7 linked regions of the Homo sapiens genome follow. The protein of the gene in region 1 purifies or fractionates together with the protein of each later gene. This does not show direct contact. Each region holds a gene or a part of one and is shown in the gene's direction. Other genes may lie near its edges.

Region 1 (4,303 bases):
TTTCTAATTCTCTCCACTATTGAAATAGGGTATCAGACCCTGCCACGAACTACACTAAACGATTAAAATCTAAGCAGACCTGCAACTGATTATTATCTCATTCCTTCCCGCGGTTTTATAGATGTAGATTTGGCTTATTTCTTCATGCACATACACCGAAGATGGATTCTGTCACCATAATCTCATCTCCTCAATCTGCAATTCAGTTGTTAGTGTCTTCTTCTTGCACATCTTCATCTGCCACCCCATGGGATGTAGCTCTCCATTCATAATCTAAAGGTTAGAAAGTTGCATCCATAAGACTTAGCCTCCCTGTTAGGAGCCCACACCAGGGACCCCTGGCCCATTGCCTTCTCTCTCTGCAACCTCGGAGAGACCTAAAAGTGGGCGAGGTGCAGTCAGAGCCTGGATGGGCACTTGCTTCTGTGAATGCCCACCTGCCCACTCTCTCACACTTTGGGCTTTCTGGGTACACCTTAGACAAAAGGGTCTCCTTGCCCTTTCTCATGCATCTTTTCTGGACTCCACTTCTTACCTGCTGTAACCACAGTGCTCATTTAACCCTTGCAACTTAGACCTTCATCTCCTCCCCATGGGGCTTGAGGTATCTACCTGGCCCAGTCCCACTAGCCAGAGGCCAATCTTTCTCTCTCTTTGCTGCTTCGGGACCGCCTTGCTTTCATTTGTCCGAGAAGATCACGTCTCAGAAAAGTTAAACTGGATTCAAGACGATGTCTCCTAGCCAGCCTCGGGTCCTGACATTGTTGTTAGTCTACTGCGAATGAACTGTCCTCCTCATATTCTCCAATCCCCAACCAGGCCTGGAGGTCAACTATCTGCACATCCCCACACCCACCCCTGAATGTCCAGCGAGCACAGAGAAGTGGACTACACGATTCACTTGCAAAGACTTCACCTTCTGTTTGGATGGACAAAATAGCGCACTCGAAACAACAGAGCCCAAAGCTGTGTCCAATCACGTTCCTGTGTGTGTCCCAGATGCGGCCCCAGGAGGAAAACAAGTGTTTGCGGAATTTGGTGGCCAAAGGCCCTTGGGCCTGGCTTTATTCTCACCACCACCCCACTTTCTCTCAGGGCATCCCCTGACCCCGGCCCGCAAAATCCATCAACCAGAACCTCGGGGTAGGCCCTGGGTTCGTGCCTCGGCTCCTGAAACCCAAGCCGGGGTTCTCCAGGAGAGAGCCCCGGGAGCGGGGCTTGGCACGGGCGGGAGGAGGGGGGCGGCGACGGCGGCCCCAGATCCCCGAGGGAGCGCCCCGGCACGGCCGGAGCAGGGGCGGGGAGGCGCGGGGCGCAGCCAATCCCCGGGCCGCCCCCTCCCCGGCCGCGGCGAGCCGAGCCGGGGCGGGGGAGCCAGGCGGCGGCGGCGGCGGCGGCGGCGGCGGCGACGGAGCTGCCGTGGGGAGGGATGGAGAGGGGAGGGGGGAGCGGAGCCGAGCGGAGACAGCCGCGGCGCTGCAGAGCGGCTGGGGCGGCGGCGCGGCTCCCGGTGCTCCCCCCGGCGCGCGCCCCGAGTCGGTGAGGGCCCGGCTCTGCGGCCCCCGGAGCCATGGGCTGCATCGGCTCCCGGACTGTGGGTGGGTACCGCGGCCGGGCGGGGGCAGGGCTGGGCCCCCCGGGCCGCCCTCCGACCCCCTCCCCCATCCCTCTCCTCGCGCCTCCGGGCGCCCCGCTCCGCACCCGCCTTGCCCTGCTAGCTCCTTCACTTTCCTTCCGTCCGCCCGCGGTCCCTCTGTCCCTCCTTCCTGCCCGCTCTCGTCTTGCGCCTCCGGGGCTGCCATCCCGCTCGGCTCGCTTCCTTCTCCCCGTCGCCCTCCCGCAGGCGCGGTCCTCTCCATCCTCTCCATCGCCCTCCTCTCCTCTGCCTCTCGGCCCGACGCTCGGTCCCCTCATCCCTGCCCCTCCAGGCCATCCGCCTCTGCTCCGCCGTCCCCAGCGCCTCCTCGCATCCCCCACTCCGGAGCAGCCCCCCGCGAAGGACCCTCGGCCTCCGCGCCAGCCCCGAGTTTCTTTCGCACGCCCCCCACGCCACCCCCCGCCGCCGCCTCCATCTGGCTCGGGTGCTTTGCCCCATCTCTCTCTCCCTCTCCGTTGCCTTTTACTGTCGTTCCTGCCTCCTCCGATTCGCTTTGTTCACGTGCGTTTTCCCTCTGGGGCGGGGGCGGGATGAGCCCGGGTTCCACGCCCGGAGGGACAGGGCCAGGGCCGGGTGGAGGGAAGGGGCTGGGGGACGCGGGGAGGAGATGGGGGCTTCGAGGCGCTGGGAGGGGTCGGGAGCCCGCGGCCCGGGAGGGTGGGGCCGGCCCTGCCTCGGCGGCCGGGGACCCGCCTGCACCTGTCAGCGGGGGCCGGCGGGGCGGGGCCGGCTCTTTATTTACCTTTGACGCGGGGAGGGAAGAGAGGCGCCTCCTAATCCATCTTCTCCCTCCAGCTTCTGCCTGGCTACCGCCCCTGACCCCCACCCAGGCACCCACTCCACTCTCGCCGCTCAGCGAATTCATCCGGCCCTCTCCCACCCCCTCCCCCATTCTTCCCCTTTCCAACTCCCAATTTCTCCCGCCTACACCTCCCGGTGACCTCAGGCTGAGAGAATAATTCGTATTATTATTACAAACAAACTCACTCTCCAGAAGCCTGATTTCCCTGAGACCCGGTTTATTTCCATGGATACCCCCTCCTCCTCTGCTTTCACCCCTTCTCCGCGGCTCTCTCCCTCCCCGCTGCCCCCCACAGCTCTGACTCAGCTCTCCGTCTCTCACAAAGGCCACCTCCCGCTCCCCTCTCCCCCCGCACCCCGCCCTCCCCTGTCTCCCTTCTCCTCAGGCTCTTCTCCACCTGCCCCATTCCTGCTGTGTCCGGAGGGCCATCTTTCCTCTTTTCCCCCAGTCACCACCCCGCGGAGCCCCAGGGGACAGCAGGCCAACTTTGGAGGGTCCTCCCTCCTCAGTCCGGTTCACCACAAGCCCCTTCCTTTCCCCCAGCCCTGCTGATGTGCTGAATGCCTCCTCGTGCCCAGCCCCATTCAATGCTCCCCTTCCCAAAAATGGAGCCGACCCCTAAACTCACAATTGTAAAACCTCATGAGTATAAAGGGCCTGTACGGTCAGATGGTTCAGGCAGCCATCTGCTGCTTGAATAGTCCCTTTATGAAGACCCAAGCAGTTCTTCCGCAAGACTCTCCGCGGCACCATCCTGCCCTCAGTCCAGGAGTCTCCCTCCACCAGGAGCTCTGGCCCGGCTGTAACAAGGACCCTCCTTCCCCTGAGTCCTGCAGTTTCCCACTCAGCCCTCAGACCCTGTCCACCCCTCCCACCATCTTCTGTCTTCTCTCTGACTTGAATTCCTATTTTCTTAATTCCTATTTTAAAAAGTTCTCTTTTCTCCTCCTGCTCACCAGCTTCCCTCCACTTTAATCCATCACTTCTCTCCCCACAGTCAGGTGAAATGCCTCCAGCTCACCCTTGGTTTCTCTGCTCACTGTTTTTGGGAGGACACACCCAACTCCTTGCTATCCAACTCCTGCCTCGATTCCCAGGAAGTCCTCTTCCAGTCAGTCAGACTCATGGACTCTTAGGAAGGGCCCACCGGGGGAGACACATCCCTTCCACCCTAAGCATAGAGAAAAGTTCCTCATAGAGCAGCTCTGCCCTTATCTGTAGACTTGTAATAGAGAAAAAGCCCAGCTCCCATACAGAAACCCTCCAAGAGTCCTCAGGACGGAATAATTGGTTTTCTGATAAAACCCAACCTCTGACCCCTCCACATAAACAACAACAAATAAGGCCATACATCACTTTTTCTGAGTGCACTATTCTGGGTTGAGCTAAAACTGAATATTTGGGCTCAGCATTACTACTTGTCTCCCCTAGAATTTGGAGAGTGCAGGGATATAAGAGGAAATGGGCAGCTGGGGTAAGGAAGGGGTGTGAAGGGCTGGCCCCAGGGTGTCGCCTCGGCTGCACAGGGAGGTGAGGGCCGGCGGCTAACCTTCTGGCCCCCTCAGGGAATGAGGTGATTGCAGTGGATTGGAAGGGCCTGAAGGATGTCGATCAAATCAACATGGACAGCACCAGCTCACTGCACGGGAGCAGCCTCCATCGGCCATCGACTGAGGTGAGACCTCACTCAGCCACCCCAAGTCTCTGGCTGCCTGCACTTCCTCAATTCCAAGGCAACAACCCAAACACTCCTTCAGACTGACACTTCTACAGAACATTTCTCACAACACATGCCAAGCAGTCCACATGGAGAACCCAGTTAGCGGCATCAACCTCAGGAAAGC
Region 2 (3,842 bases), on another chromosome or scaffold:
CATTAAAGCCTGTGAGGTGAGTTTTAGAAGCATTTATGAATTTGAAAATACTCTTGCCTTCTGATTACCTTTGTTTGTGGAGGAGAGAGTAGAGGTAACTATGATTTGGTTTATATTTCTGCTCTGGAAGTTTTACTTAAAAATGTAAACTTTGAAATGTTTTTTAAAAATGGTCTTTTACAGTTACTTTTTTTTCTTTCTTTTTTTTTTTATTGATCATTCTTGGGTGTTTCTCCCAGAGGGGGATTTGGCAGGGTCATAGGACAATAGTGGAGGGAAGGTCAGCAGATAAACAAGTGAACAAAGGTCTCTGGTTTTCCTAGGCAGAGGACCCTGCGGCCTTCTGCAGTGTTTGTGTCCCTGGGTACTTGAGATTAGGGAGTGGCGATGACTCTTAACGAGCATGCTGCCTTCAAGCATCTGTTTAACAAAGCACATCTTGCACCACCCTTAATCCATTCAACCCTGAGTGGACACAGCACATGTTTCAGAGAGCACAGGGTTGGGGGTAAGGTCACAGATCAACAGGATCCCAAGGCAGAAGAATTTTTCTTAGTATAGAACAAAATGAAAAGTCTCCCATGTCTACTTCTTTCTACACAGACACGGCAACCATCCGATTTCTCAATCTTTTCCCCACCTTTCCCCGCTTTCTATTCCACAAAACCACCATTGTCATCATGGCCTGTTCTCAATGAGCTGTTGAGTACACCTCCCAGACGGGGTGGTGGCTGGGCAGAGGGGCTCCTCACTTCCCAGTAGGGGCGGCCGGGCAGAGGCGCCCCTCACCTCCCGGACGGGGTGGCTGGCTGGGCGGGGGGCTGACCCCCCCACCTCCCTCCCGGACGGGGCGGCTGGCCGGGCGGGGGGCTGACCCCCCCACCTCCCTCCCGGACGGGGCGGCTGTCCGGGCAGAGGGGCTCCTCACTTCCCAGTAGGGGCGGCCGGGCAGAGGCACCCCTCACCTCCCGAATGGGGCGGCTGGCCGGGCGGGGGGCTGACCCCCCCACCTCCTTCGCGGACGGGGCGGCTGGCCGGGCAGAGGGGCTCCTCACTTCCCAGTAGGGGCGGCCGGGCAGAGGTGCCCCTCACCTCCCGGACGGGGCGGCTGGCCGGGCGCGGGGCTGACCCCCCCACCTCCCTCCCGGACGGGCGGCTGACCCCCCCACCTCCCTCCTGGACGGGGCGGCTGGCCGGGCGGGGGGCTGACCCCCCCCCACCTCCCTCCCGGACAGGGCGGCTGTCCGGGCAGAGGGGCTCCTCACTTCCCAGTAGGGGCGGCCGGGCAGAGGCACCCCTCACCTCCCGGATGGGGCGGCTGGCCGGGCGGGGGGCTGACCCCCCCACCTCCCTCCCGGACGGGGCGGCTGGCCCCCCCACCTCCCTCCCGGTCGGGGCGGCTGGCCGGGCAGAGGGGCTCCTCACTTCCCAGTAGGGGCGGCCGGGCAGAGGCGCCCCTCACCTCCCGGACAGGGCGGCTGGCAGGGCGGGGGGCTGACCCCCCCACCTCCCTCCCGGACGGGGCGGCTGGCCGGGCGGGGGGCTGACCCCCCAACCTCCCTCCCGGACGGGGCGGCTGGCCGGGCGGGGGGCTGATCCCCCAACCTCCCTCCCGGACGGGGCGGCTGGCCGGGCGGGGGGCTGACCCCCCCACCTCCCTCCCGGACGGGGCGGCTGGCCGGGCGGGGGGCTGACCCCCCCACCTCCCTCCCGGACGGGGCAGCTGGCCGGGCAGAGGGGCTCCTCTCTTCCCAGTAGGGGCGGCCGGGCAGAGGCGCCCCTCACCTCCCAGACAGGGTGGCTGGCAGGGCGGGGGGCTGACACCCCCCACTTCCCTCCCGGACGGGGCGGCTGGCCGGGCAGAGGGGCTCCTCACTTCCCAGTAGGGGCGGCCGGGCAGAGGCGCCCCTCACCTCCCGGACGGGGCGGCTGGCCGGGCGGGGGGCTGACCCCCCCACTTCCCTTCCGGACGGGGCGGCTGGCCGGGCGGGGGGCTGACCCCCCCCACCTCCCTTCCGGACGGGGCGGCTGGCCGGGCGGGGGGCTGACCCCCACCTCCCTCCCGGACGGGGTGGCTGCCGGGCGGAGATGCTCCTCACTTCCCAGACGGGGTGGCTGCCGGGCGGAGGGGCTCCTCACTTCTCAGACGGTGTGGCTGCCGGGCGGAGGGGCTTCTCACTTCTCAGACGGGGCGGTTGCCAGGCAGAGGGTCTCCTCACTTCTCAGACAGGGCGGCCGGGCAGAGATGCTCCCCACATCTCAGATGATGGGCGGCCGGGCAGAGACGCTCCTCACTTCCTAGATGGGATGGCGGCCGGGCAGAGACGCTCCTCACTTTCCAGACTGGGCAGCCAGGCAGAGAGGCTCCTCACATCCCAGACGATGGGTGGCCAGGCAGAGACGCTCCTCACTTCCCAGACGGGGTGGCGGCCGGGCAGAGGCTGCAATCTCGGCACTTTGGGGGGCCAAGGCAGGCAGCTGGGAGGTGGAGGTTGTAGCGAGCCGAGATCACGCCACTGCACTCCAGCCTGGGCACCATTGAGCACTGAGTGAATGCAACTCCGTCTGCCATCCCGGCACCTCGGGAGGCCGAGGCTGGCGGATCACTCGCGGTTAGGAGCTGGAGACCAGCCCGGCCAACACCTACAGTTACTTTTAAATTAATGTCATTTTTGAAGAATGGATTATTTAATGAACATTTTATATATAAATATATGTCTTTTTGGAAAGGGGAATTGAGTCAAGAGCAGATTTATATTCTCTTAACTGTGCTTTATTTAGGCTGAAACTAACAATTCTCCAAATATAACTGATAATCTATAAATATTTAATGACAAGTGGCAGTCTATTTAGGGAAAACTAAATTAGTATTGAGACAGTCTTGTGAATAACATATTTAACTTTAATTTTGAATTGTGAATTTCAGTTCTTTTCTTTCCATTCTTTCATTCTTTCCTACTTGCTGCCCTGCCCATTTTTTTTTTTTTTTTTTTTTTTTTTTGAGGCAAGGTCTCACTCCGTTGCCCAGGCTGGAGGGCAGTGGCTTGATCTTGGCTCACTGCAACCTCCACCTCCCAGGTTCAAGCAATTCTCATGCCTCAGCCTCCTGAGTAGCTGGGACTACAGGCGCCCGCCACCATGCCTGGCTAATTTTTTATTTTGTATTTTTAGTAGGGATGGGGTTTCGCCATGTTGGCCAGGCTGGTCTTGAACTCCTGGCCTCAAGTGATCTGTCCACCTTGGCCTCCCAAAGTGCTGCGATTACAGGTGTGAGCAACTGCACCTGGCCTTGCCCTGCCTTTTTAAATTAATTATTGTCATCTATTTTATTCTTCTGCCTTGTGTGGGAGAATAAAATCATCCTGTTTTGTTGTTTCTTTCTTCCATGAAACAGTCACTGAGTATCATTTATGTGCTGGGATCACTCCAGGTCTTGGCGAGTTAAATGAAAATGACATTGGCCCAGCTCAAGGGCCAAGGTGTGGGGTTTGGGCAGATGTGCACATTATTATAAAGTGATGTGGTGGCGAGACCACTTGTATTAATTTAGAATTTTACGTGTGTATATATATATGTGTGTGTATATATATATGTTTTAAAACTTTGTTTGGAATGCCTCAGAAAATGTTTTTTATTAACAGGAAAGAACTGACTTCCTCTGGTGGGCCAACAAAGTTTGAAATCCATATAGTGGCTCAGTTCGATAATCATAATTCTCAGGTCTGGCGAGTGAGTTGGAATATAACAGGAACGGTGCTAGCATCTTCAGGAGATGATGGGTGTGTAAGATTGTGGAAAGGTAAGAGTTCAGTGAAGGGGTAATTGTTGGTTTATATTTCTGC
Region 3 (3,842 bases), on another chromosome or scaffold:
TGACAGAGTGAGACTCTGTTTCCAAAATAAATAAATAAATAAATAACCTTTGGTTCCTGGCCTAAGTTTTTTATTCTTTACCATTCTGTCCTTGAATAACGTGTTTAAGGGTTTTTAAACAATTTTTTATACTCATATAATGACTAGTTGACTTGCTGTAACCGTAAGTAGCAAACATCTAGCTTGTTCCAAATGAATTTAAAAGATACAACACATAAGTAAAATATTGGTATGTACAAACTATGTGCTTCTCATAATCTCACATTTACCTTTTTCAGGAATAGGATGAGTGATAATCCACCCAGAATGGAAGTGTGTCCTTACTGTAAGAAGCCATTTAAACGATTAAAATCCCACTTGCCATACTGTAAGATGATAGGACCAACCATACCTACTGATCAAAAAGTTTATCAGTCCAAGCCAGCTACACTCCCACGTGCTAAAAAGATGAAAGGACCAATCAAAGATTTAATTAAAGCTAAAGGGAAAGAGTTAGAGACAGAGAATGAAGAAAGAAATTCTAAGTTGGTGGTGGACAAACCAGAACAGACAGTGAAGACCTTTCCACTGCCAGCTGTTGGTTTGGAAAGAGCAGCTACTACAAAGGCAGATAAAGACATCAAGAATCCAATCCAACCATCCTTCAAAATGTTAAAAAATACTAAACCAATGACTACTTTCCAAGAAGAAACCAAGGCTCAGTTTTACGCATCAGAGAAAACCTCTCCTAAAAGAGAACTTGCCAAAGATTTGCCTAAATCAGGAGAAAGTCGATGTAATCCTTCAGAAGCTGGAGCGTCTTTACTGGTTGGCTCAATAGAACCTTCTTTGTCAAATCAAGATAGAAAATATTCCTCAACTCTACCTAATGATGTACAAACTACCTCTGGTGATCTCAAATTGGACAAAATTGATCCCCAAAGACAGGAACTTCTAGTAAAATTACTAGATGTGCCTACTGGTGATTGTCATATTTCTCCAAAGAATGTCAGTGATGGGGTTAAAAGGGTAAGAACATTATTAAGCAATGAGAGAGATTCCAAAGGCAGGGATCACCTCTCAGGAGTCCCTACTGATGTTACAGTTACTGAGACTCCAGAAAAGAACACAGAATCCCTCATTTTAAGCCTTAAAATGAGCTCATTAGGTAAAATCCAAGTCATGGAGAAACAAGAGAAAGGACTTACCCTGGGAGTAGAGACGTGTGGGAGCAAAGGAAATGCAGAGAAAAGTATGTCTGCAACAGAAAAGCAGGAACGGACTGTCATGAGCCATGGCTGTGAGAACTTCAACACCAGGGATTCAGTCACAGGAAAGGAGTCTCAAGGGGAAAGACCACATTTAAGTTTGTTCATTCCGAGGGAGACGACTTACCAGTTTCATTCTGTATCGCAGTCAAGTAGTCAAAGTCTTGCCTCTCTAGCTACAACATTTCTTCAAGAAAAGAAAGCAGAAGCCCAGAATCATCATTGTGTCCCTGATGTAAAGGCATTAATGGAGAGTCCCGAGGGACAGTTATCTCTGGAGCCCAAATCTGATAGTCAGTTCCAAGCATCACACACTGGGTGCCAGAGCCCTTTATGTTCAGCCCAGCGTCACACTCCTCAGAGCCCCTTCACCAATCATGCTGCAGCTGCTGGCAGGAAGACTCTTCGCAGCTGCATGGGGCTGGAGTGGTTTCCAGAGCTCTATCCTGGTTACCTTGGACTAGGGGTGTTGCCAGGGAAGCCTCAGTGTTGGAATGCAATGACCCAGAAGCCACAACTTATCAGTCCCCAGGGGGAAAGACTCTCACAAGGTAAACAAGCTTATTTTCAATTGCCATCTGTCCCATCCAAAATGCTCTCTCTGCCTTTTGAATTTATAAGGGTCAAAATACTAACATTTTCAGTCATTTAGTTTATTTTCACCTAGGCATGCCAGTAGACTGCATATAAAGTTGTCCTGAAAGAGGCTGGGTGTAGTGGCTCACACCTGTAATCTAAGCACTTTGGGAGGCTGAGGCCAAGGCAGGTGGATCACTTGAATTCAGGAGTTAAGACCAGCCTGGGCAACATGGTGAAACCCCATCTCTACTAAGGATACAAAAAATTAGCTGGGTGTGGTGGCGCACCTGTAGTCCCAGCTATTTGAGAGGCTAAAGTGGGAGATCACCTGATCCCGGAAAATCAGGGCTGCAGTGAGCCGAGTATGTGCCACTTCACTGCAGCCTGGGCGACGGGAATGAGACCCTGTCTCAAAAAAAAAAAATTGTCCTGAAAACATTACTTCTTGCTTCAGTGGTCAGTAGTGGTGGTTTATCCCTCTCTTTTTCTCTCCCCCAAGAGTTGAGGGTTACACTAGGGCAGGCTGGCGATACTGAAAGCAGTTGAGTTTCTGCCTTGAGAAGAGGCATGTCCAGTAGAAACTGGATGGGTAAACAGACTGGAGAAAAATATAAAGACTTGAAATTCAGCTAGATAGAATAAGCACTGTGTTCAGAATCCAGTCAGGACCAGGTTGTACAAGAAATAGGTTCTAAGTTTACAGGACAAGAAATAGGTTCTAGGTTTCAGGCAAATGCAACATCTAGGAATTTAGAGTAGCAAAGTAGGATGCAGGTGGTAGGACACAGGTAAAACTAGCCAGGTAAGACGGGCAGGCAAGGCAGATAAGTGGAAGTGGAGGCTCAGGAAATGAACAGTGAAGATCAAGGACCAGAAACGGAGGATGTGGCCAAAAACAAAAGAAAAAATGTAGGCCACAGAGACTAGGACCCAAGAATAAAACCAGTGATTGAGCCTGGAAACAGGAGAGATGAGGCGAGAAGGGCTTGGGGCGAAAGACTGAACGTTGAAACTCACCTTGATTATGAATCAAACTTCAGAAGCTTCCTAGAGGCTCCTTTTGCTGATGGCTGGAATCGGTTAACAGGAGGGAAGACCAAGGCCCAAGGAGCCAGGAAGTTCCTGACAGTCATTTGAAATATCTTTGCTTTTCTCTGCTGAATCTCATCTTTAGTTATGAGACCACCTCTCTAGTTAAAATACATAAAGTTTCTTAAGCTTTTCTAGGGGCAGGGTGATTGTAAAGTAGCATACCTGTCGTTTGTAAAGTAGCATACCTGTCGTGTGTAGTGGCCATTGGTGCTTTCATGCTTATTTTGACAGGAGACCTGTAACAACTCAGAATAGGTTTGCAAGAGAAAAACTGGTATTATCTCTTCCTAAAGGGAAATCATTTTCTTCTCTGGTAGATTTTGCAAATGATCTCATATTCACTAAACCTCTATTTGCCTGGTCTCAAAATGGATGTGTACTAAAAGCAGAACATTGCTAGCCCAAAGCTACATTTTCTTTAACTACCTTCTATAAACAGGCCTAACGTCTAGACCTTTTTGCACAAAGTTGTAGTCACAAAGTCAAGCCCCTTCTCCGTAATAAACACATTTAATTATATTAACATTTGTGTTGCTTTGTGGTTTTCAGAGTGCCTCCATCTGTATTTTTTTTATTTTGGGCACAAGGTGGACAGAGAGGTGGGCAGAGTGAATTTATCCTATTTTGTGGATGATGAAACAGGCACAGAGAGCATAAGTGATTTGTCCAAGTTTGTGTTGCCAATAAATAGTAGAGCTGCAAGGAGAACCTAGTTTCCTGAGGCCTAGTTTAATCTTTTCCACTAAACCATGTTGTAGAAAATACACCATAACTAAAACCATGTTTGTTATAGTGCCATACTTTTCTGTGTGTGTGTGTGTTTTGTTTTTTTGTTTGTTTGTTTTTTGAGACAGAGTTTTGCTCATTGCCCAGGTTGGAGTGCAGTGGTGTGATCTTGGCTCACCTCTGCCTCCTGGGTTCAAG
Region 4 (4,500 bases), on another chromosome or scaffold:
TCTCCCACCTCAGCCTCCCGAGTAGTTGGGATAACAGGTGCCCGCCACTATGCTGGGCTAATTTTTCTTTTTCTTTTTTTTCTTTTTGGAGACAGAGTCTCACTCTGTTGCCTAGGCTGGAGTGCAGTGGCGTGATCTCAGCTCACTGCAACCTCCGCCTCCCGGGTTCAAGCGATTCTCCTGCCTCAGCTTCCTGAGTAGCTGAAATTCCAGACGTGCACCACCACACCAGGCTAATTTTTGTATTTTTAGCAGAGACAGATTTCACTATGTTGGCCAGGCTGGTCTCAAATTCCCGGCCTCAAGTGGTCCGCCCACCTTGGCCTCCCAAGGTGCTGGGATTACAGGAATGAGCCACCGCACCCGGCTTAATTTTTCTATTTTTAGTAGAAATGGGGTTTCACTATGTCGGCCTGGCTGGTCTCCAACCCCTAGCCTCAGGTGATCTGCCCGCCTCAGCCTCCCAAAGTGCTGGGATTACAGGTGTGAGCTACTGCGTCCTGCCCAGCCAGCATTATTATTATTATTTTTGAGACGGAGTTTCGCTGTTGTTGCCTAGGCTGGAGTGCAATGGCGTGACCTCGGCTCACCGCAACTTCTGCCTCCCGGGTTTCTAGTGCCTCAGCCTCCTGAGTAGCTGGGATTACAGGCATGCACCACTAGGCCTGGCTAATTTTTGCTATTATTAGTAGGGACGGGGTTTCTCCATGTTGGTCAGGTTGGTCTCAAACTCCCGACCTCAGGTGATCTGCTAGCCTTGGCCTGCTGGGATTACAGGCGTGAGCCACCGCCCCGCCAGCATACATCAATTGTCAGTAAATTTCTTCTTCGCCTACTAGTTCCAATATCTTATTTAAAATCTATGGCCCGGTGAGGTGGCTCAGGCTTGTAATCCCAGCACTTTGGGAAGTCAAGGCGGGTGGATTGCCTGAGTTCAGGAGTTCAAGACCAGCCTGGGCAAAATGGCGAAACCCCGTCACTCCTAAAAATACAAAAAATTAGCAGGGCGTGGTAGCACACTCCTGTAATCCCAGCTACTCAGGAGGCTGAGGCAGGAGAATCACTTGAACCCGGGAGGCGGAGGTTGCAGTGAGGCGAGATGGGCCACTGCACTCCAGCTTGGGCGACAGAGTGAGACTCTGTCTCAAAATGAATGAATGAATGAATGAATGAATGAATAAAATCTACGAGGTCGGGCGCAGTGGCTCACTCTTGTAATCCCAGCACTTTGGGCGGGCGGATCATTTGAGGTCAGGAGTTTGAGACCGGCTTGGCCAACATGGTGAAACCCCATCTCTAAAAAAAATACAAAAATTAGCTGTACTGCTTGGGCGACAGAGCGAGACTCAGTCTCAAAAAAAAAAAATCTACAAATCCACTTCATCTTTCATTAAACACGAACCTGGGACGTAGTTAGAATGTCTTGAAGAAAATATTTCAGTAATATTCCAAGTCCGTCGCCCTGGCAAAGCAACAAGGCCACCTGACGGAGTAAGCCCGAGACCCCTGTGCCTCCACAGTACTGCCCGCGGGATCGCGGCGTGGGGAACCAGGAACTACAAGTCCCGGCAGGCCGCGCGCGCCTCGGCTTCACTAAGCGCAGTCAGGTGGCTGTCCCCGCACGGTTCCCAGCTAATTCCCCGCTACCGGGTTGCGGCCGGAAGCCGGGCGCCGCGGCTCTGCTTCCCTCGGGGTGAGTAGGGGCAGCTCGCCGGAGGCCGGCGCAGAGCTCGGGCCGACCAGCCTGGCAGGGCCGCACCGCGCCTGGAGCGCGAGGGAACCGGCATGGACACGCCGGGAGTCGGCCTCTGCTCCGGTTGTGCAGCCGCCCTGGGCGCCGGGAGGGACAGCCCCATGACCTTGTCACCTGGGCCCGGCGCGCGGCCACGTGGCTCGGGTGACTCGCATTGCCCCGCCCCCCTGCAGTGACTTCTCCAGTTTGGCACACCAGTGGGCTTTCATGTGACCTGTCCACTTCAGTGGCACAGTCTTGCAGGCACCCGAGTGGGCAGAGCTGGAGGAGGGCCGGAGGTGGCTCACCCAGACGCCTTCACCCCCTGGTGGCCCTGTGAGTTCCGAGGCAGAAGCAGCTGGAGCTGGAGCGTGGTCTGGGCAAGAGCAGGGGGCGATGCCCATATCCTGGCCCTCCACCCGGTCTTGCGAACGTGCCCCAGACCGCTGCTTATCTCCAGCATCTTGCAGGGCCCTGGGCTTCCAGATCACACAGTAGATATGTGCTAACAGCAGCCAGTGTGTGTGGAGAGCAACCTTTAGATAAGACACCTAGAACAGCCCTCTCCCAGGGTTAAGTGGCATTTACTTTCTACTAACAAGAAAGTCATTCAACAAGTATTTATTGTTTACCTCCATGATACTTGGCACTTAGTAGGTGCTCAAGAAATATTTGCAGAGTTGAAGTGAATTAGACTTTATCTGTGGCTTCATATGTTTTATTTAATAATTTTCTTGGGGCTGGATGTGGTGGCTGATGCCTGTAATCCCAGCACTTTGGGAGGCCAAGATGGGAGGATTGCTTGAGGGCAGGAGTTCAACACCAGGCTGGGCAACATAGTGAGACTCCCGTCTGTATTAAAAGAAAAAAAGGAAAATAAATAAAATAATTTTCTTACTACAGTGGTTCTCAAACTTTAGCATGCACCAGAGTCACCTGGAGAGCTAGTAACAACACACAGTACTGGACCCCATCCCCAAAGTTTCTGATTCTGTAAGTCTGGTATGAGGACCAAGAATTGGCGTTTCTAACATGCACCCAAGTGATGCAGTTGCTGTTGGTCTGGGGACCATACGTTGAGTACCACTGCTTTATAGGAAAAAAAATCCTGTGAACTTAAAGCACTATCTCTTCACACCTGGTTACGGGTCTTTCTGTCTTTATTTGCCAGTTTTACTTTTTTGGTGATTGTAAATATGTGCATATTACTTTGTACACTGTTAACTCCCTCCATATTAATTTATATACAGATTTTAATGTAGTCTATACTTGTCATTTTTCCTGGTTACATCATATTCTACCTTATTGGGTCATTCTTTGCTTGGCCATTTCTCAACTGGCCTCAGGGATGTGCGATTTGATCTGTACTAGAAGAGTGTGCATATTCTTACTTTCTGCTATGCAGTCATTTTCTTGTCAGACAAAGGACCTGTAAGAATATTAGTTGGGGCCGGGTGCGGTGGCTCACACCTGTAATCCCAGCACTTTGGGAGGCTGAGGTGGGCGAATCACTTGAGGTCAGGCGTTCAATGCCAGCCTGGCCAACATGGTGAAACCCCATCTCTACCAAAAATACAAAAAAATTACCTGGGCGTAGTGGTGTGTGCCTGTAGTCCCAGCTACTTGGGAGGCTGAGGAGGAGAACAGCTTGAACCCGGGAGACGGAGGCTGCAGTGAGCCGAGATCGTGTCACTGCACTCCAGCCTGGGCGACTGAGCAAGACTCCGTCTAAAAAAAAAAAATTTAGTTGGGTCAGCCATCCATTTCTTCACCAGGGTAACTCACTAAATATGCCTCCTGGGTTAAGGTTTCCATGTTGCAGGGACTCCAGTGGCCTATTTCAGGGCCCAGCAAGCTGCTTGTTCTTGTGCACTTTTTGCTCTCTTGGTGGGAGCAGTCATACATGGATTCAAGTTCTGCCTCCATCACTTACCAGCTCCTTGGCCAAGTTTTCTACCTTTTCTAAAACACCACTTCCTTATCCATAGATTGAAGCTCTAATAGCATGCACCTCGGAATCTGGTTGTGTGAGTTAATGAGCTAATAAGTGCTTGGTACTGTAGCTCTCCCGTTGGAAGCTCACTCTCTTCTCTTACCTGCTGCTTGCTCTTTGCATCTGGCTTTGCCCTATTCTCCCTCAGTCTGCCTTTCCTAGGATGGACTGAATGGAGGATTTCTATTCCTTGCCTGGGTGAGAATTATTTTTGTTGTCTATTCTGGGACCTTGGCATCAGTCAGGGATTCCTTTTTTTATTTTTTGAGACAGAGTGTTGCTCTGTCGCCCAGGCTGGAGTGCAGTGGCACGATCTTGGCTCACTGCAGCCTCTGCCTCTCGGGTTCCAGCAATTCTCTTGCTTCAGCCTCCCGGGATTCCTTTATTTAATCAACATTGATTTAAGGACCTTGAGTGCTTAGGCATCAAACACTAGGAAAGGGAGTTTGATTAAAATTTGGTTCCTAGCCGGGCGCGGTGGCTCACGCCTGTAATCCCAGCACTTTGGGAAGCCAAGGCGGGCGGATCACGAGGTCAGGAGATCGAGACCATCCTGGCTAACATGGTGAAACACCGTCTCTACTAAAAAAAATACAAAAAAATTAGCTGGGCGTGGTGCCGGGTGCCTGTAGTCCCAGCTACTCAGGAGGCTGAGGCAGGAGAATGGCTGGAACCCGGGAGGCGGAGCTTGCAGTGAGCCGAGATTGCGCCACTGCACTCCAGCCTGGGCGACAGAATGAGACTTCATCTCAAAATAAATAAATAAATACAATTT
Region 5 (3,842 bases), on another chromosome or scaffold:
GCTGGCCACCACGCCCGGCTAATTTATTGTATTTTTAGTAGAGACGGGGTTTCACTGTGTTGACCAGGCTGGGTTCAAACTCCTGACCTTGTGACCCACCTGCCTCAGCCTCCCAACGTGTTGGGATTACAGGCAGGAGCCACCATGCCTGGCCTCATATGGTCTCTTTTGGAACAACTCAGCTTTGCCATTGTAGCATAAAGTGGGCAGAGGCAATACATAAATGAATGAATGTGGCTGTATTCCAATAAAACTTTATTAGCACAGGCTGCTGGCCTGAGGGCTGTGGTTTGCCAACCCCTGCTCTAGACCCACCATCAGGTTCATATGTTCTTTGGGCTGCCTAGGCTAGGCTCCCATCCCGCTCTTGATACATATATCTTTTCTTTACACAGGATAAAGGGCAGTTAATTGTTGTTAGTGGGCTTCATACAGTGACTATGATTAGGAATGAATGAAGCATTAAGTAACATTTGAACATGATATTTGAGTTTACACTGTGATGCCTTTTTTTTTTTTTTTTTGAGACAGAGTTTCGCTCTTATTGCCCAGGCTGGAGTGCAATGGTGCGATCTCAGCTCACTGCAACCTCCACCTCCTGGGTTCAAGCAATTCTCCTGCTTCAGCCTCCCGAGTAGCTGGGATTACAGGCATGTGCCTCCACACCCGGCTAATTTTTTTTTTTTTTTTTTGAGATGGAGTCTCGTTCTATTGCCCAGGCTGGAGTGCAGTGGCGCAATCTCAGCTCACTGCAAGCTCCGCCTCCCAGGTTCACGCCATTCTCCTGCCTCAGCCTCCTGAGTAGCTGGGACTACAGGCATGCACCACCACACTTGGCTAATTTTTTTTTTTTTTTTTGAGATGGAGTCTTGCTCTGTTGCCCAGGCTGGAGTGCAGTGGCACAATCTCAGCTCACTGCAAGCTCCGCCTTCCGGGTTCACGCCATTCTCCTGCCTCAGCCTCCTGAGTAGCTGGGACTACAGGTGCCTGCCACCATGCCCGGCTAATTTTTTGGTATTTTTTAAATAGAGACAGGGTTTCACCATGTTGGTCAGGCTGGTCTCGAACTCCCGACCTCAGGTGATCCGCCCACCTCAGCTTCCCAAAGTGCTGGGATTACAGGGTGAGCCACTGCGCCCGGCCAATGCCCTATCTTTTAAAAATACAGTTAAATAGGTAAAAGGCTAAGGATCCCAGAGTTCCTATTGTGTTACTTCTTGATGTGGTGGGCTGAGTCTAACAAGAAAAGTTTCTTTTTTTTTTTTTTTCCAATTTAGGGACCTGCCACTTCAGGAGAGAAAAGTTTTTTAATGTAATGTTTGATATAAAAGCATGCGTAATACACATAAAGTATAATGAACACACACATGTATATATGTGTTTATATATGCATACATATACATACACATGCTTACATAACAATCAACCTAAGAACTAGATTACTATCTCAGTGTTCTTTTTTTTTTTTTTGAGACAGATTCTTGCTCTGTCACCCAGGCTGGAGTGCAATGGCACGATCTCAGTTCACTGCAAGCTCCACCTCCCAGGTTCATGCCATTCTCCTGCCTCAGCCTCCCTAGTAGCTGGGACTACAGGCGCCCGCCATGACGCCTGGCTAAATTTTTGTATTTTTTTAGTAGAGACGGGGTTTCACCGTGTTAGCCAGGATGGTCTCGATCTCCTGACTTCGTGATCCGCCCACCTCGGCCTCCCAAAGTGCTGGGATTACAGGCGCAAGCCACCGCGCCCCGCCACCCTGTTCTTTTTTAAAATCATTCCTTTTCTCCCTCCCAGCTCCACCAGTGTATATTCCATTTTGAATTGTATAAAGCAGAATGAAATTTAATTGATATAAATGTTAACATTTTGTACTCAGTTTCAAAAAGTGATCTCCACAATTGAAAAGAAACAGAAATACTTACGGGGAAAGGGGAAACGGAAGACCTGCAGGTTTTAGCAGGTCAATTAGAATTGACTTTGTTCCAGGAAAAGCCAATTTGCTCTTAATATCATTAAGGGAAATGTGTTATCTGGACTGAGAAGTGGTGGTCATGCTCTGTTGTGTGCTGGTTAGGCCACAGCTAGAGTATTATACTTTCCTGTTGTTGTCATGTGTGTGAGAGGTATAGAAAACCAGGAATGCATTCATGGATAAGTATTCACACTAATGACACAACCTGAAAATATGCATCTGGAGGCCAGGTCATTGGGTGTGTAACTTGTGAAAGAGAACAGTCAAGAGACGTGAGAGAAGCCTTCAGCAATTTAGAGGTCATTCAGCAGAAGTGGTCCTGTGGGGCACAGTTAGGCCAGTGGAAGATGTGGGGCAGCAGCAACAGCTCCTAATCACTCTCAGGTCACAGGACCCTTTGGAAATCTGAACACTGCAGACCTTTCAGAAAAGCAGACATACCACTTGCATACCATTTCAGATTTGCAAACCCCAGGCATCCCCTGATCTCAATTTATAAGAGCTCTTGCTATATTGACAAAATATCCCACAGTCAAAAGACAGCTGACAAATTGAGAGAACATATTTGCAATGTATATCAGAGATAAAGGGTCTATATCTGTAATACATGAAGAACTCTTGAATTGAGGAATGAAGAACCAAACCCAATAGAAAAATGATAAGACTTGGGCTAGGTGTGGTGGCTCACACCTGTAATCTCAGCACTTTGGGAGGCTGAGGCGGGAGGATGATGAGGTCAAGAGATTGAGACCATCCTGGCCAACATGGTGAAACCCCATCTTTACTAAAAATGCAGAAATCAGCTGGGTATGGTGGTGCATGCCTTTAGTCCCAGCTATTCGGGAGGATGAGGCAGGAGAATTGCTTGAAACTGGGAGGCAGAGGTTGTAGTGAGCCGAGATTGTGCCACTGCACTCCAGCCTGGCGACAGAGTGAGACTCCCTTTCAAAAAAAGAAAAAGAAAAAAATGGGAAGACTTGATAATGAACTGTGTGTGTGTGTGTTTGTGTGGTGTATGTGTGTGTGTGTGTGTGGTGGTGGTGGTTAAACATAAGAGATGGTCAGCCTCGTGTAATTAGAGAAATGCAAAGTTAACCAGAGATACCACTTTTTTCCCTTTGATTTAAGGGTGTCGCTTTTTGACTATCAGATGGGTGAAAATGAAAATGTATGACAACGTATCTGGTTCAAGCAAGGCTATGAGGAAACAGACATTCTAATACATTGCTGGTGGGAATGCAAACTGATACAACCTTTCTGAGGAGCAGTTTGGCAACATTTAACAAAACTATTGGTGCCTCGACCTGTTCACCGAACACTTTAAGGAAACCTGCCTTAAAAGATAGACTTCTAGGCCTGTAATCCTAGCGCTTCGGGGGGCCGAGGCGGGTGGATCACCTGAGATCAGGAGTTCGAGACCAGCCTGGGCAACATGGTGAAAGCCTGTCTCTACTAAAAATACAGAAATCAGCTGGGCGCAGTGATGCATGGCCGTAATCCAAACTACTTGGGAGGCTGAGGCGGGAGAATCGCTTGAACCCCAAAGGCGGAGGTTGCAGTGAGCCAAGATGGCACCACTGCACTCCAGCCTGAGTGACAGAGCGAGACTCCGTCTCAAAAAAAAAAAAAAAAAAAAAAAACAGTGGCCAGGCGCGGTGGCTCACACCTGTGATCCCAGCACTTGCGAGTACGAAATGGGTGGATTGCCTGAGGTCTGAGGTCAGGAGTTCGAGACCAGCCTGGCCAACCTGGTGAAACCCCCATCGCTACTAAAAATACAAAAAATTAGCCGGGCGTGTGGCGGTCGCCTGTAATCCCAGCTACTCGGGAGGTTGAGGCAGGAGAATAGTTTGAACCCAGAAGAAAGGGT
Region 6 (3,842 bases), on another chromosome or scaffold:
AGCCCAGTAGTGTCTTGGGAGTGGGCAAGCCAGCCAGGCTGAGGGTCACTGGAGAGAAGGGCCACTTCTGCAGCTCAGCTTCCAGGCCGCCATCTCCTCCATGTTCCCTTCTTTCTGGACCAGCTCTTCAGGTCCTGAACACCCCCGAGGTCCTTACACTCCGTAGACGACCATGCTGCTGTTTCCTCTCCCTTCCTCCCAGATCTGACAAACACCCTTTATCCTTCAAGAGCTAATGGAAGTGACTCCCCTTGGGGATGGCTTCCCAGCCTCTGCCACTCCTTCGTGCTACCATGGTGCCTAAAATCTTGCCTCTCCCCAGCACGCGCCATGCTTTGGCCATGTTTAGATCATGCTCATTTTCCTGAAGAGACGTGTCCAGTCTCTGCTAGCTGCCTTCACGTTCCCTTCATCTGTCTGGTGAGCCTCTGCGTTTTTCAGGCTTAGCTTTGACATTATCTATGCATGTGTTCATCAAATATTTACTGGACACCAGTGTCAGGCACTGAACAGAAGGCTGGAATTACACTAATGCTGCTCACACAGTTCACTAAGGGACACGATCACACTAAGGGAGCGGCACAGAGGCCCCAGGAATGGAGGGGCTCTGAAAAAGAGTTTGCGTGGGGACAGCTGGGGGTCGGTGTTCCAGGCAGATGGAAATGCAAAATTGAAGAGCTGGAAAGACACCTAGGGGCTTCAAAGTGTCGTTTGTGGCTGGGCACGGTGGTGCATGCCTGTGATCCCAGTGCTTTGGGAGGCTGAGGCAGGAGGATCACTGGAGGCCAGGAGTTTGAGACCAACCTGGGCAACATAGAGAAACCCTGTCTCTACAAAAACATTTTTTTTTTGAGACGGAGTCTCGCTCTGTCGCCCAGGCTGGAGTGCAGTGGCGCGATCTCGGCTCACTGCAAGCTCCGCCTCCCAGGTTCATGCCATTCTCCTGCCTCAGCCTCCCGAGTAGCTGGGACTACAGGCGCCCGCCACCACGCCCAGCTAATTTTTTGTATTTTTAGTAGAGACGAGGTTTCACCGTGTTAGCCAGGATGGTCTCGATCTCCTGACCTCATGATCTGCCCGCCTCGGCCTCCCAAAGTGCTGGGATTACAGGTGTGAGCCACCGCACCCGGCCTTTTTTTTTTTTTTTTTTTTAAAGTGTCATTTGCTGAGAAGGAATACAGGAGATGAGCCAGCGTTGGGGAAGATGTTGGGTAAAGTATGGAAGTAAAGTGTTTGGGGACATTTGAATGTACTCTGTGGACAGCTATGAATGCAGCCCCAGAGCTAAGGAGAGAGAGCTGGTCGGGTTGGGTTTGGGGCTCATTGGCTTATGGTTGGCAGCTTGGGCATGGGATGAAGGAATGTGCATGGCGGGGGGTGGAGCGCCTGGCGCACTGACGTTTAAGGGGTGACAGAGGAGCTGGGGCTCCGGGAGGCTGAGGGGAGCAGAGGAAGGATGGCGACTCACCTGTAACTGTTTCCTGAGTTCTCTGCTCAGAGGATGGAGACCTCAGCATTTTATCTCTGCCTTTCCTACCCCTGAGGTTCCCTTTTCTTCTCTGTGTCGGGGATCTTCCTGCTGGAGTCTGTCAGCCTCTGGCGCCTTGTGGAGGGAGCCGCTGTGCTGCCCTGGTTGTTTGTAGACAGTGTGCCCTGGGGGCCTTCCACTTCCAAAACAGGTTTTTGTTATAGGAAGTAGGGGGAAACACAGAGACCTGTCTCTGCCCCGAAATACCAGGGACAACCGGTGAGCCCACAGCATAGCTAGAGCTGCCCGTCTCGGGAGGTGCTGGGCAGAGACCAAAGATGGGTGGGGCTGCCCTGGAAGAAGCGAGTGCAGACTGGGCCTTGGATTCCCCCTGTCTTTGTGTTGTTTCTTGCAGCTGGATCAGATCTGCATTTCTTTTGACGAAGGCAAGACCACAATGAACTTCATTGAGGCAGCGTTGTTGATCCAGGGCTCTGCCTGCGTCTACAGTAAGAAGGTGGGCCCTGCTTGACGCTGGTCTTGGCATTTTGGTGGCCAGTGGGACCACAGTCGGCTCTCCTTCTGGGGCAGGTGCAGTGGTCGTCCCGTCTGTGACCTACCTCCCTCTCTCCTCAGGTCTCAGCCAATTCCTCAGCACCTTCCAACACCAAGAACAATTTTTAATTTAAAATCGCACAGCCAGGCAGGGAGGGTCTTTTGTGCTGTTGGGCTCTGTTGTCTTGGGGGAATGACACCTGCTGTGTGCACTTGGACACAGCCCAGGGTGCCACCTGCACCCACCTTCCCCTTCCCCGTCCCCTACTTGTGGGTGCCTCATTGTCAGCACCTAGAAAGTCCACAACCACCACCCTCACGGTGGGGCCTCTGTTCTGTGGAGGAGAAGGACAGGAAGTGAGTGACGGGCTCTGTCCTGCAGGCCCCGTGGCGGCAGGAGCTGGGACAGGGCAGGGCCAGGACAGGAGGAGGGGCTGGGGTGATGCTGGCGGGAGCACACGGGCGGAGGAGCAGCAGGGCTGCAGGCCGTCGGCAGAGTGGGTGCCAAGCACGAGGGGCCTCACCACCAAGGACCGTGTGATGAGGCACACTGTGGGAACCACAGTGCTGTCAGGGTCACACGTTGAGAAGGCCACGCTCGCGGCTGCGTGGACCATAGAGGGCAGAGGAGAGATGTGGGTGGCCTCAGCTGGTAAAGTAATTCTCATGAGATTCCTGGTTTGATTTGAGAATTATTTTTGGAACCAAAATTGGTGGTTTCTTGTACTGGAGGTTTGGTGGTGGTGGCCAGGCCTCGTGGGGGCACCGATGGATAGCTGGGAAGGCCTTGGGGGTGGGCCCCTCCTTTCTGGGTCCTCACTGCCTGCATCTGGTCACCAGGTGGAATACCTCTACTCACTCGTCTACCAGGCCCTTGATTTCATCTCTGGAAAGAGGTGAGTTCTGCAGCCACTCACTGTGCTGCCCTGCATGTGGCCAGGGAGGCCCCTGCAGCTCCTGGGATGCCCACGGGATGTGCTTCTCTCTCAGGCGGGCCAAGCAGCTCTCTTCGGTGCAGGAGGACAGGGCCAATGGGGTTGCCAGCTCCGGGGTCCCCCAGGAGGCAGAGAATGAGGTGAGTTTCTTTGGCATGTGGTCCCCGCCCACTGTGTGTTTGCCTGGGCTCCGCCCCCACGAGCTCTGTCTCCCTCCAGTTCCTGTCGCTGGATGACTTCCCTGACTCCCGGACTAACGTGGATCTCAAGAATGATCAGACGCCCAGTGTGAGTCCTGGCCTGGCCCCTCTTAGGCTGGGGTGAGGTCAGCACTTTCCCTGGGGCTGTGTTGAGCTGATGGGGTGTGGGAAGGTGTCATTGCCCCATGTGGGTCCTGTTCTCCACTGGAGTGGAAGGGTGCCTGGCTCACCCACCCTTGGCCTCCATGCAGGAGGTCCTCATCATCCCCCTCCTGCCCATGGCCCTGGTGGCCCCTGATGAAATGGAGAAGAACAACAATCCCCTGTACAGGTAGGGATCTGAGCCCAGCGACGGGGAGGGAGGCCTGCCTGGGAAGGGTCTCTACAGCAGGCGTGTTTTTGCCAGCACAGCCGTCAGGGTGAGGTCCTGGCCAGCCGGAAGGATTTCAGGATGAACACGTGCGTTCCCCACCCCAGAGGGGCCTTCATGTTGGAGCCAGAGGGCATGTCCCCCATGGAACCAGCGGGCGTTTCCCCCATGCCAGGGACCCAGAAGGGTGAGGGCTTGGATGCGGGGGGCTTGGTGGGAAGGAAGGGAGGGTCTTCTGGTTGGACTCTTGTGGGGTGCCCTGTGCTTGCCACCTCTGGTCTTGGGAGCTCCCTGTCTCTGGGTGCCTGCTCTAG
Region 7 (3,618 bases), on another chromosome or scaffold:
TTGGAACAAATGGAGTTAAAAGATATATACAGAATATTCCATCCAACAACCACAGAATATACGTTCTGTTCAACAGCACATGAACTTTCTGTAAGATAGACCATATGATAGCCAACAAAATGAGCCTCAATAAATTTTAAGAAAATTAAAATTATATCAAGCACTTTCTCAGACCACAGTGGAATAAAACTGGAAATCAACTCCAAAAGGAACCTTCAAAACCATGCAGATACATGGAATAACCTGCTCCTGGATGATCTTTGGGTCAAAGATGAAATCAAGATGGAAATGTAAAAATTCCTCAAACTGAATGACAATAGTGACACAACCTATCAACCTCTGGGATACAGCAAAGGTGGTGCTAAGAGGAAAGTTCATAGCCCTAAATGCCTACATCAAAAAGTTGGAAAGAGCACAGACAATCTAAGGTCACATCTCAAAGAACTAGAGAAACAAGAACAAACCCAGCAGAAGAAAGAAGATCAGAGCGGAATTAAATGAAATTGAAACAAAACAACAAAAAAATCCAAAAGATAAATGAAACAAAAAGCTGGTTCTTTGAAAAGATAAATAAAATTGATAGACCGTTAGCAAGATTAGCCAAGAAAAGAGAGAAAATCCAAATAAGCTCAATAAGAAATGAAACGGGAGATATTACAACTGACACCACAGAAATACAAAAGATATTCAAGGCTACCATGAACACCTTTACATGCATAAACTAGAAAACCTAAAATAGATGGATAAATTCCTGGAAAGATACAACCCTCCTAGCTTAAATCAGGAAGAATTACCCTGAACAGACCAGTAACAAGCAGGGAGATTGAAATGGTAATTAAAAAATTACCAACAAAAAAATGTCCAGGACTAGACGGATTCACAACAGAATTCCACCAGATATTCAAAGAAGAATTGGTACCAGTCTTAAAGACACTATTCCACAAGAGAGAGAAAGAAGGAATCCTCCCTAAATCATTCTATGAAGCCAGTATCACCCTAATACCAAAACCAGGAAAGGACATAACCAAAGAAGAAAACTACAGACCAATATCCTTGAACATAGATGCTAAAATCCTTAAGAAAATTCTAGCTAACTGATTCCAACAACATATCAAAAAGATAATCCACCATGATCAAGGGGTTTCATACCAGGGATGCAGGGATGGTTTAACATACACATGTGCGTAGCCAAAGCAAGACTAAGCAAAAAGAACAAATCTGAAGGCATCACATTACCTGATTTCAAACTTATACTATAAGGCCATAGTCACCAAAACAGCATGGTACGGTTATAAAAATAGGCACATGGACCAATGGAACAGAATAGAGAACCCAGAAATAAACCCAAATACTTACAGCCAACTGATCTTCAACAAAGCAAACAAAAACGTAAAGTGGAAAAAGGATACCCTTTTCAACAAATGGTGCTGGGATAATTGGCTAGCCACATGTAGGAGAATGAAACTGGATCCTCCTCTCTCACTGTATACAAAAATCAACCCAAGATAAATTAAAGACTTAAATCTAAGACCTGAAACTATAAAAATTCTAAAAGATACCATTGGAAAAATCATTCTAGACATTGGCTTAGGCAAGGATTTCATGAACCCAAAAGCAAATGCAATAAAAACAAAGATAAATAGCTGGGACTTAATTAAACTAAAGAACTTTTGCAGAGCAAAAGGAAAAGTCAGCAGAGTAAACAGACAACCCACAGAGAAGGAGAAAATCTTTCATAATATATACATCTGAAAAAGAACAAATATCCAGAATCTACAATGAACTCCAACAAATCAGCAAGAAAAGCAGTCCCATCAAAAAGTGGGCTAAGGACATGAATAGACAATTCTTAAAAGAAGATATACAAATGGCCAATAAACATATGGAAAAATGCTCAACATCACTAATGATCAGGGAAATGCAAATCAAAACCACAGTGCGATACCACCTTACTTCTGCAAGAATGGCCATAATAAAAAAATCAAAAAAATAGTAGATGTTGGCATGGATGTGGTGAACACGGAACACTTCTACACTGCTGGTGGGAATGTAAACTAGTACAACCACTATGGAAAACAGTGTGGAGATTCCTTAAAGAACTAAAAGTAGAACTACCATTTGGTCCAGCAATCCCACTACTAGATATCCACCCAGAGGAAAAGAAGTCATTATACAAAAAAGATACGTGCACACGCATGTTTATAGCAGCACAATTCGCAATTGCAAAAACGTGGAACCAACCCAAATGCCCATCAATCAATGCGTGGATAAAGTAACTGTGATATATATACATACAATGGAATACTCCTCAGCCATAAAAAGGAGTGAATTAATGGCATTCACAGTGACCTGGATAAGATTGGAGACTATTATTCTAAGTGAAAGAACTCAGGAATGGAAAACCAAACATCGCTATGTTCTCACTCATAAGTGGGAGCTAAGCTATGAGGATGCAAAGGCATAAGAATGACACAATAAACTTTGGGGACTCAGGGAGAAAGGGTGGGAAGGGGATGAGGAATAAAAGACAAAAATTGGGTGCAGTGTATACTGCTCAGGTGATGGGTGTACCAAAATCTCACAAATCACCACTAAAGAAGTTAACCAACACCACCTGTTCCCCAGTAACCTATGGAAAGAAAGAAATGTCTCATATGTTTCTGCCTAAATTGGTCTTTAATACTTTAGCGATTCTCTTGAGTTTGGATTATAAAATAGTTTTTGGTCTTTTTGTATTTTCTGCTGTAAGCCTGTATGATTATGTAATGGTGAGTAAAATTGCTAGGCCAGATACGCAGTTCTAGGAAGTTATGCAAAGATGTGCTTTAGTATATTATTTTCTACCTTTTTAAATTCATTTTGAGCTTGGCTTTTGAGCCTCTATTTTCCAAGGTGGGGTGTATGTTTTTATAATGTTATGCTTAGCCCTTGTGTATTTTCATCTCTGAGTTTGAAATTTGGGGTTATATTGGCAAAGGGAGGTTTGGGTTTTAATTAGGTGACCTGTTAGAGGAAATGTTAAGCTTCTGTTTCTTTAGGGTAGACAGTGAGAGATTTATCAAGATAAAGAAGAAAAATAAATCCTAAAGTTAATATTCAATACATGATGATGTCACCCTTACTAAAGCCAAAGAGGGCATTATCCTATCATTCTCATCGCTAAGAACTCTTCTCCTCTTGGCACATGCTTATTCAGTTAAAGATAAGCCAAGCCTTTCTTTTGTATTTTTTTTTTAAGAGAACAAATTTACTTTGGTTTTGAGTTTTATTCCTGGCTCTGGGTAGCTTATTTTTTTGACCCTTATTTTCCCCAATTTATAAAATGAAATAGTTATCTTCACTCCCCAGGATTGTTGTGAAGAGTAAGTCAAAAGATACAATGAGGTGACTCAGGCAAAAGTACCTGGCCCTGTGTAGTGAGTACATTGTATGTGTTACATATATTCTTATTCCTGAGAATCCACGAAAGAATGAATTAAATAATGAGGACCCTTTCATCAGGGTTTCTGAGTGAGTTTTTTAAAATACAAGGTAGTAGTTTGTGTAAATACTAAATCCATTGGTACCTGTGCAGAATGTAGGAAATGGAGTTGCTAATTCCAAAAAAACAGCACATAT

Evidence for each region.
Region 2: the proteins of FAM131B (region 1) and SEH1L purify together in Homo sapiens (affinity purification with mass spectrometry; one large-scale study listed by BioGRID and IntAct). This does not show direct contact.
Region 3: the proteins of FAM131B (region 1) and MTNAP1 purify together in Homo sapiens (affinity purification with mass spectrometry; 2 studies listed by BioGRID and IntAct, with this or other methods). This does not show direct contact.
Region 4: the proteins of FAM131B (region 1) and ADCK1 purify together in Homo sapiens (affinity purification with mass spectrometry; 2 studies listed by BioGRID and IntAct, with this or other methods). This does not show direct contact.
Region 5: the proteins of FAM131B (region 1) and PRR14L purify together in Homo sapiens (affinity purification with mass spectrometry; one large-scale study listed by BioGRID and IntAct). This does not show direct contact.
Region 6: the proteins of FAM131B (region 1) and NCAPH2 purify together in Homo sapiens (affinity purification with mass spectrometry; 2 studies listed by BioGRID and IntAct, with this or other methods). This does not show direct contact.
Region 7: the proteins of FAM131B (region 1) and ZNG1C purify together in Homo sapiens (affinity purification with mass spectrometry; 2 studies listed by BioGRID and IntAct, with this or other methods). This does not show direct contact.

Annotation. Positions count from the first base shown.
Region 1 is NC_000007.14:143,359,871-143,364,173, reverse strand, and holds the start of FAM131B (protein FAM131B), read left to right. Parts: upstream 1-1,460; 5' UTR 1,461-1,570; coding exon 1,571-1,598; intron 1,599-2,093; exon of another isoform or gene 2,094-2,468; intron 2,469-4,024; coding exon 4,025-4,134; intron 4,135-4,303.
Region 2 is NC_000018.10:12,978,877-12,982,718, forward strand, and holds part of SEH1L (nucleoporin SEH1), read left to right. Parts: coding exon 1-16; exon of another isoform or gene 17-17; intron 18-3,641; coding exon 3,642-3,799; intron 3,800-3,842. UniProt on the Homo sapiens protein: Component of the Nup107-160 subcomplex of the nuclear pore complex (NPC). The Nup107-160 subcomplex is required for the assembly of a functional NPC.
Region 3 is NC_000017.11:73,235,198-73,239,039, forward strand, and holds part of MTNAP1 (mitochondrial nucleoid-associated protein 1), read left to right. Parts: intron 1-278; 5' UTR 279-285; coding exon 286-1,798; coding exon of another isoform or gene 1,799-1,899; exon of another isoform or gene 1,900-3,441; intron 3,442-3,842. UniProt on the Homo sapiens protein: Critical regulator of mitochondrial DNA (mtDNA) abundance. Binds dsDNA throughout the mitochondrial genome without sequence specificity and controls mtDNA copy number by promoting its replication.
Region 4 is NC_000014.9:77,798,478-77,802,977, forward strand, and holds the start of ADCK1 (aarF domain-containing protein kinase 1), read left to right. Parts: upstream 1-1,631; 5' UTR 1,632-1,693; intron 1,694-4,500. UniProt on the Homo sapiens protein: Appears to be essential for maintaining mitochondrial cristae formation and mitochondrial function by acting via YME1L1 in a kinase-independent manner to regulate essential mitochondrial structural proteins OPA1 and IMMT.
Region 5 is NC_000022.11:31,733,069-31,736,910, reverse strand, and holds part of PRR14L (protein PRR14L), read left to right. Parts: intron 1-3,842.
Region 6 is NC_000022.11:50,514,564-50,518,405, forward strand, and holds part of NCAPH2 (condensin-2 complex subunit H2), read left to right. Parts: intron 1-1,156; exon of another isoform or gene 1,157-1,184; coding exon of another isoform or gene 1,185-1,211; intron 1,212-1,883; coding exon 1,884-1,985; intron 1,986-2,863; coding exon 2,864-2,919; intron 2,920-3,013; coding exon 3,014-3,098; intron 3,099-3,177; coding exon 3,178-3,246; intron 3,247-3,409; coding exon 3,410-3,489; intron 3,490-3,564; exon of another isoform or gene 3,565-3,569; coding exon 3,570-3,715; intron 3,716-3,842. UniProt on the Homo sapiens protein: Regulatory subunit of the condensin-2 complex, a complex that seems to provide chromosomes with an additional level of organization and rigidity and in establishing mitotic chromosome architecture.
Region 7 is NC_000009.12:68,293,821-68,297,438, forward strand, and holds part of ZNG1C (zinc-regulated GTPase metalloprotein activator 1C), read left to right. Parts: intron 1-3,618.